Linked DNA regions of Homo sapiens. The protein of the gene in region 1 purifies or fractionates together with the protein of each later gene. This does not show direct contact. Each region holds a gene or a part of one and is shown on either strand. Other genes may lie near its edges.

The links.
Region 2: the proteins of POLR3G (region 1) and GNL2 fractionate together in Homo sapiens (co-fractionation; one large-scale study listed by BioGRID). This does not show direct contact.

Annotation. Positions count from the first base shown.
Region 1 is NC_000005.10:90,509,036-90,512,863, forward strand, and holds part of POLR3G (DNA-directed RNA polymerase III subunit RPC7), read left to right. Parts: intron 1-3,017; coding exon 3,018-3,104; 3' UTR 3,105-3,828. UniProt on the Homo sapiens protein: DNA-dependent RNA polymerase catalyzes the transcription of DNA into RNA using the four ribonucleoside triphosphates as substrates.
Region 2 is NC_000001.11:37,585,764-37,589,591, reverse strand, and holds part of GNL2 (nucleolar GTP-binding protein 2), read left to right. Parts: intron 1-339; exon of another isoform or gene 340-632; intron 633-2,096; coding exon 2,097-2,281; intron 2,282-3,828. UniProt on the Homo sapiens protein: GTPase that associates with pre-60S ribosomal subunits in the nucleolus and is required for their nuclear export and maturation.

The DNA.
Region 1 (3,828 bases):
GGGCAACATATATATATTTATGATTTCCTTTATTTAAATTCAACAATTTACAGCAATTATATGCATCTTCTATATGCCAGGCATTGTGCTAATTGCCAAGTCTTAGACAAACATGGTTGCTTCCCTTAATTTTTGTTACATAATGCTTTTCGTTTTTCTCCTATTTCTGGTACATTTTTATGGTCTCTGGAGTTCTTTCTAGTCTTTAAATGTCAGTATTCTTCAGGGCTCTTCCCTCGGGCTTCTTTTTCTTGCTGTAATCTCTCTGATTGCATCCCTCCCCATAGTTACCCTGTATAAACATGTAACTCCTCAGTTCTTTTTCATTCAACCTATAGTAAGTGTACACTAAGTATATGCTTGGAATTGTACTAGGCAATGGGAATATGAAGATAAGATACAGTTCTTCTCTCAGGGAAATTACTAGAGAGACAAAAAAGGTAACAGTTAATATACAGTGAATAATGCTGTGATACAGTAGTACCGGATGCTATAGCGGCATATAAGAGATGCTGTGGGCACACCAAAGTCTATTTTAGGCATATCAAAGATGATATTTCAAAGAAGACAATTTAGGTGATCTGAAGAGCTAATCAGATCAAGATAGGAACATGGAATGGAGTGGACACTTGCAGGGAGAAAAAAGAACATGGAGAGAGGCTTGCAGGTGATGGGAGTGTAGCTTCTTAATTTAACTGACCAGATAAATCGGTATGGCGGGACTAGAGGGTGTTAAGTGGGCTTGTGTTGAGAGATGAAGCTGGAGAGATGAGCAGGTCATTAAGGACTTTGAATGTCAAGCTGAGAAATTTGACTTTATCCTGAGTACTGTGGGGAGCATTGAGGGGTTTTAAACAGTGGAATGGTATAATCATGTTTATATTTTAGAAAGCTCAGTTGCTTTGAATGGAAGAGCCAAGTTTGGGTCATATTTGAAAGCTTATTGCTGTAAACCAGTGGTTTTCAATACTCTTGAAAGGATATTTGGTAGTGTCTGGAGATATATTTGGTTGTCACACTGCCATGGGGGTAGTAGGGTGGTGGTGCTATAGGTTCTAGTTTGTGTGGTCAATACTCTAGACAAGACTGGCATTTGCAATGCTCTGTTGACAATGTCTGCTTGCACTGAGTTCAGGATCAAGACCATCCTGGCTAACACGGTGAAACCCCGTCTCTACTAAAAATACAAAAAATTAGCCGGGCGTGGTGGCAGGCGCCTGTAGTCCCGGCTACTCGGGAGGCTGAGGCAGGAGAATGGCGTGAACCAGGGAGGCAGAGCTTTCAGTGAGCCGAGATCGCGCCACTGCACTCCAGCCTGGGTGACAAGAGTGAGACTGCGTCTCAAAGAAAAAAAAAAAAGATTACTAACGTCACACAATTACCAAATTTGAATCACTTAAACAGAACTTGGAGGAGGTACTCATGTCTAAAACACAAGTGACATATGCTTGATTTGGAATACTAGAGTATCCCTTCCTTATTCATCTCCACTTTATGTACAAATCGGCTTACTTTTATTTCTACACAAGTGTTCTTGCCAAAGGTCTCCTTTACAATGAGACCTCATTTGAACTCTCAACCATGCCACCCTCCCCTGGTACACAGGCCCCAAGCTTCACCCAGGTGTCTAAATATTGCCAAATTTTTTTGGCACCAGAAAAGCCAGGCCAACTTTCCAGAGATGGGAATGGTCTTAGCTGAATGCAGAAACTTAAAGTATCTAGGGAAGAAAAAGTAATGAGATAACTATCTAAAGAATGCATATACAGTGAATAATGCATGTTACCTTTCTTGCATTATGTAAATATATTAAAAATCCCACTATCCAGATTTAAAAAAAAAAAAAAACTTTGGAAAAAAATTAGTAAAATTGATAGGAGACTTTCTTTTGAGAGTAGTCTGTATTTCTTACTATAGATAGTAGAGATGTGGACATTAATTTCTTATTATAGCAGATCTCAATCATGTGCAAAAATGTAGTGACTAGTAAAAGAAACACCCATGGTCTTATCACTCAGCTTTAACAATGGTCAATTCATAGCTAATCTTTCAACCACTCATTCATCTACCCAATCCCTCCCTGTCCACCCATCCCATTCCCCGTGCCCCATGTGCCTTGGATTCCAAAGAAAATCCTAGGCATCGTATCATTTCATCCACAAATATGTCAGTATGGATTCAAAAATAAGGGCTCTTTAACAACATCACTGTATCATTATAACACCCCATACAATGAAATATAATTCCTTAATTTCATCAAATATCTGGCCAGTATTGAATTTTCTTGGTTGTCTCAAAAAGTTTGTTTGTTCCAAACAGAATCCAAATACAATCCATACATTGCAACTGATTAATAACTCTTAGGTTTAATTTATATCCAAAGTGGATTTTTGATTGTAAGATACTGGAGGCCCGGAAAAATAAATAAGAAAGTAATATTTGAATTTTTGATAGAAAGCACAGATATTTTCTGAGTTATTTGCATGGATGATAGTCTTATTCAGCCACAAGAAAAAGAAACTAAGAGGTCCTAGATAGAATATAATATAGGCATCTTTTGGATTTGGTTTGGTATCATGCCTTTTTTTTTTTTTTTAATAGGAAGTAAAAGTCTTTCTGGCTTATGCTTAGTTATGTTTTATGACTAAAAATCTCAGTACTGGTGTAGTCTAATGGATGTTAATGTAAACTGGCTTTTTTTCTTGTCTGTGCATTTTTTGGGTAAGTGTTTAGTGGTTTAGCTAACTAAACTATGTATCATCCCAGTAAGCTGTAATGTGTTAGTAGCTATATTATCCTATTGAGATGGTATGGGCAACCCTTCATGTTCTCTTAGCTAGTTAGTGCCTGACAAGAGTGGAAGGTGGTGGTCTTAAGGAAGAAAGCGGCACAGGTAAACACAAGTGAAAACTGTTGTGTTTTTGAAGCAGATAAAAAGCAGAGACTTTTAGGCCTGGAATATTTTCTTACTACTCATTCATTTTAACGTTTACAAAGGAATATATCATTTCACTTAGGAAAATGACTACATTAATTCATACTTTGAAGATGGAGATGATTTTGGCGCAGACAGTGATGACAACATGGATGAGGCAACCTATTAGGCATGAAATTTTTCAAAAAATATTTTTATGATGCAGCTTCTGAACATTTGGACAGACTTGATTTGTATTTTATTTCTGATAAGGAATAAGTACTTGTTTCTGTTGTTTTGGACAAATAGTTGTTACCAAAATATTCAAAACCACTTTGAGTTTACATACTAGTTACCTTAAAAATTATTCCCTGACACTCTGACATTCCTTCTAAACACCTCTGCCATCTCTCTTATGTACTCTCATGGGTTTTTTTGTATGATTTGAATATGAATGTGCCTAAAGAATTTTTGCTCTCTTAATCTATGTATACATACTTGAACAAATCATTCTTGCTTAACTGCTGATCTTTTGTAAAACTATTGCTAGTCATAATGGATTTCTATAACCTGAAAGTTGATATAATACAGCACGTGGAGCACTTTAAAAACAAAGAAACTTGAAAATAATTTTATTTTTTACCTTTACATGGTGTGTTCTAGACTACTGCATTATGACTACATAAACCTACCTGAGCTCTTACAAGTACAGAATTGTGAGACAGAGGTTTTGTGATGGAAAACATACACATAGGGAAAAATACCAAACTGAGCAATATAAATTTCACAGCTCACATCTTAGCCAGTACAAAGAAACTTTCACATGGGGTGAATATTATAATACTTGAATTTGAGACTTAATACTGTATATGAATTAATCATCCCACTGTAATAACTGACATCTTCAAATAGTT
Region 2 (3,828 bases), on another chromosome or scaffold:
GGCTCACGCCTGAATCCCAGCACTTTGGGAAGCCAAGGCGGGTGGATCACAAGGTCAGGAGATTGAGACCATCCTGGCTAACACGTGAAATCCCGTCTCTACTAAAAATACAAAAAAAAATTAGCCGGGCGTGGTGGCGGGCACCTGTAGTCCCAGCTACTCAGGAGGCTGAGGCAGGAGAATGATATGAACCCGGGAGGCAGAGCTTGCAGTGAGCCGAGATTGCGCCACTGCGTGCCAGCCCAGGCGACAGAGCAAGACTCCGTCTCAAATAAATAAATAAAAATAAAATAGTTCAAAGAAAACTGTTTACTTGCAGAACAAAATAAAAACCAAGGCCTGGTTATTGCCTCAGGTTTTGTCAGTTATGTTTTGTTTTATGATGCACTAGAAGAATGGCACCTATTAGTAGAATGACTGTTTTCTTTCAGGGGAACACATGAGTGTAATTCATGAACCACAGACAAGTTGCTCATTTCCCTTGTTCTCTTTGTCTGTTCTCCCTAAAGCCATCTTTTAAGCAACTATTGAATCCTGTTTATGAGAAGAACAGAGAGGTTCTGTGATGGATTTATTGCTTCGTTGCCTGTACTTGTTGTCAGTGCTTCTAAAATTCAGTGTTTAAATATCTGGTATGTAGAATGAAGGGTCTGCAGTTGCACCAGTCAGCTTCTTTGTTGATGCAGAAAGCTGCTCAGAGTAATTGATGAGTTTTCTGCTTTGGCCTTGAAAAACCTTAACTATTTTATTTTAGTGTAATATCTATTACTTATAAAATCTAATTCTGAGATTATTTTGCACAGTGGAGTTAGATCAGATACGCATATTCATCTATATGTGTTTTAGAACTACTGTATTTCTGTAGCAATACAGTAAGAGTACTGTAACTTTGCATATGTGCTTTATATACTGTATATTACTGTGTTATACTTACTAATGTGTGTTATACTTACTAATGTGTAGGTTTATAGACATAAAGCCTTGGGTACTGTAACTTACAGGTTAAGAGATTTTGAAGGATAATTTTGGTCACACTTGATTTTACCCAGTGACATTAGACCCTATTTCCCATGTAAAATGAGCTGCTTCTGTTTGGAGATGCTCCCGAGTGGAACGTAGTGACTAAAACTAAACTGAGTTGTGGGTTAGGGCATCTGAGAAAATGATAATAGTTTAAGGATCTTTAGAAGTTGGAAGAGGGGATCTGTTAAAGTTCAGAAACCACAGGGGCTGCTGCATCATCCTCACAGCTTTTGGTAGTGGTGCTTACGGAGGAGCTTGTACTAGGGGGAAAAGGGTGATTTTTTTTTTTTTAATTGTCTGCAGGCTGTTAACATTCCGTTATGTGATAGATCCCAACTCTTTTATCTTGCTTCAGAAATTCCTATGCCTGTAACTCCTTTACAGGCACATCAAGTTCTAGTTAGTATCAGGTTCCTTTTATCACATCTAAACTATTATTTTGGACTTTTGCTAGATGTTTTTCATCCGAAGACTTGCCATGTGCATTTAATAAAAACGTTACCTAAATTAGGGAAAATGTTATCTGAAACTAAAATGCATCTTACAAAACAAGCAATTCCTTTTAGCCATGAAAGAAATTAACTTCCAAGAAAAAGTTGGCATTTACAGTTGGTTTAAAAAAAACTCACAAATTTGAGTATGATTGTCCTTGACAAAATCTATGAATTTGGCGAATTTTATGCTCTTGTTTGAAAGCTATAAAAAATGGTGGAAAAGATTAATTTTCACCACTGTAGCCTTAATTACATTTGACTGAAATTTATGATAAATGAAATAAAGCAGAGTTTTTGGCAAGTTTTTGTACAACTATTCATATTTACTTTGATTATTTGTATTACTTTTGTATTTCTCCAAGGAAGCTTACAGAACTTCAGAATAAGGGAACCAGTGTTTGTGCCATTTCAACAAGTAATTCTGATTTGAAACCAGACTGAAACCATGTCTTACAGATTTGGGTATGGGTTGAACCTTGGAAAAATAAAATCAGAAAGTCTTTCCTAGGTGGGTGTTGAGCTTTTTGCTTTTTCTCAGTGCTTTTCTTAGTTTTACCTGTTATTCTCCTTTCTCTTCAGAACTTGAAGGTGCACATTCTTGATACTGAAAGTTTTGAAACTACATTTGGCCCTAAGTCACAGAGGAAACGACCAAACTTATTTGCAAGTGATATGCAGTCTCTTATCGAAAATGCTGAAATGTCCACTGAGAGCTATGACCAGGGCAAGGATCGTGATTTGGTAACTGAAGACACTGGTGTGAGGTACATTTTTTTTTTTGCTTCTTTGTTTTTGTTTTTTTTTTTTTGAGATGGAGTCTTGCTTTGTCGCCCAGGCTGGAATGCAGTGGTGCGATCTTGGCCCACTGCAACCTCCGCTTCCCAGGTTCAAGCAATTCTCCTGCCTCAGCCTTTTGAGTAGCTGGGACTACAGGTGGATGCCTCCATGCCTGGCTAATTTTTTGTATTTTAGTAGAGACAAGGTTTCACCGTGTTGCCCAGGCTAGTCTTGAACTCGTGAGCTCAGGCAATCCACACTCCTTGGCCTCCCAAAATGCTAGGATTACAGGTGTGAGCCACTGCACCCGGTCGAGGTACAGTTTTGAAGTTCATGCAAATCTCATCATTTGCTCTTCTGCAACAAAACATTTTCTTTCAACTTATTTTGCCTGTGTGAAGCTCAGTGCTTTAACTCATATATGGAGTTATCTTCTTCCCTCAGACTGGAGACGTTGGTGAAATTGGGGCTAGACTGAAGATGTCTAAGGTGGCTTGATTGACAAAGGTCTCTCCTCATCCCCAAAATAAATAACATTTTTTCATTTATAATAGTAATACACCAGTCATAGACAAATTAGGAAATATAGTTAAGTTGGAAAATACAACAAAAAGAACATAACTCATGATCCCATTGCTGATATTAAGCATTGTTAATGCCTCTGTGAATATCGGGGCTTCCTTAACTGGAGGTCTCTGAGTTAATGGATGGCCTGTAAGGTTTCTTTGACTCTTTGAAGAAAATGTGGAAAATTTGTGAGCTTACATAAAGGCAGTAGGGTTTTGTGTTTTTTGTTTTTGTTTTGGGGAGGAGGAGGAGGAGAGGAAGTATCTATAATTTTAATCATATTCTCGTAGGGATCCATACTCAAAAGGAGAATCAGTCACCGGCTGGCTGCAGTGGCTTACCTGTAATACTAGTTTTTTGGGAGGCTGAGGCAGGAAGATCGCTTGAGCACAGGAGTTTGAGACCAGCCTGGGCAACATAGTGAGACCTTGTCTCTACAAAAAATAAAAAATTGGCTGGGCATAGAGTCCCAGCTACTCAGAAGGCTGAGGTGGGAGGATCACTGGAGCCCAGGAATTTGAGGCTGCAGTAAGCTGTGATTATTAGGAATATATTTCTATGTCAGTACATAATCAACAATAATATAATATTTATTGTCAGAGTAGTATTTTGTTTGTTATGGCCAGTCTCATTGTTGGACATTTATACTGTGTATAGTTTTTCCTTATGGTGAACAACACAAGGATGAAGCATCAATGTGACCGCATCTTTTTCATCCTTAATTATTCCCCAAAGATAAGTTCTTACGGAGCAAAGCATGATATCAAAAGGTATGCATGCTTTTTGATAGGCAGCTGCCACATTGCTCTTGAGAAAGGGTTTAATTTCATTTCCCTTGGGCAGTGCTAGAAAGCTCTCATTCTCGTCCATCTCATGTCTCTTAAATGAAGTGGAGGTTTTGCTGTCTTAGTGAAGAGGCATTGTCCTTTGACTGCATCAGTGTTATTACCTCATTGCTATTGTCAGC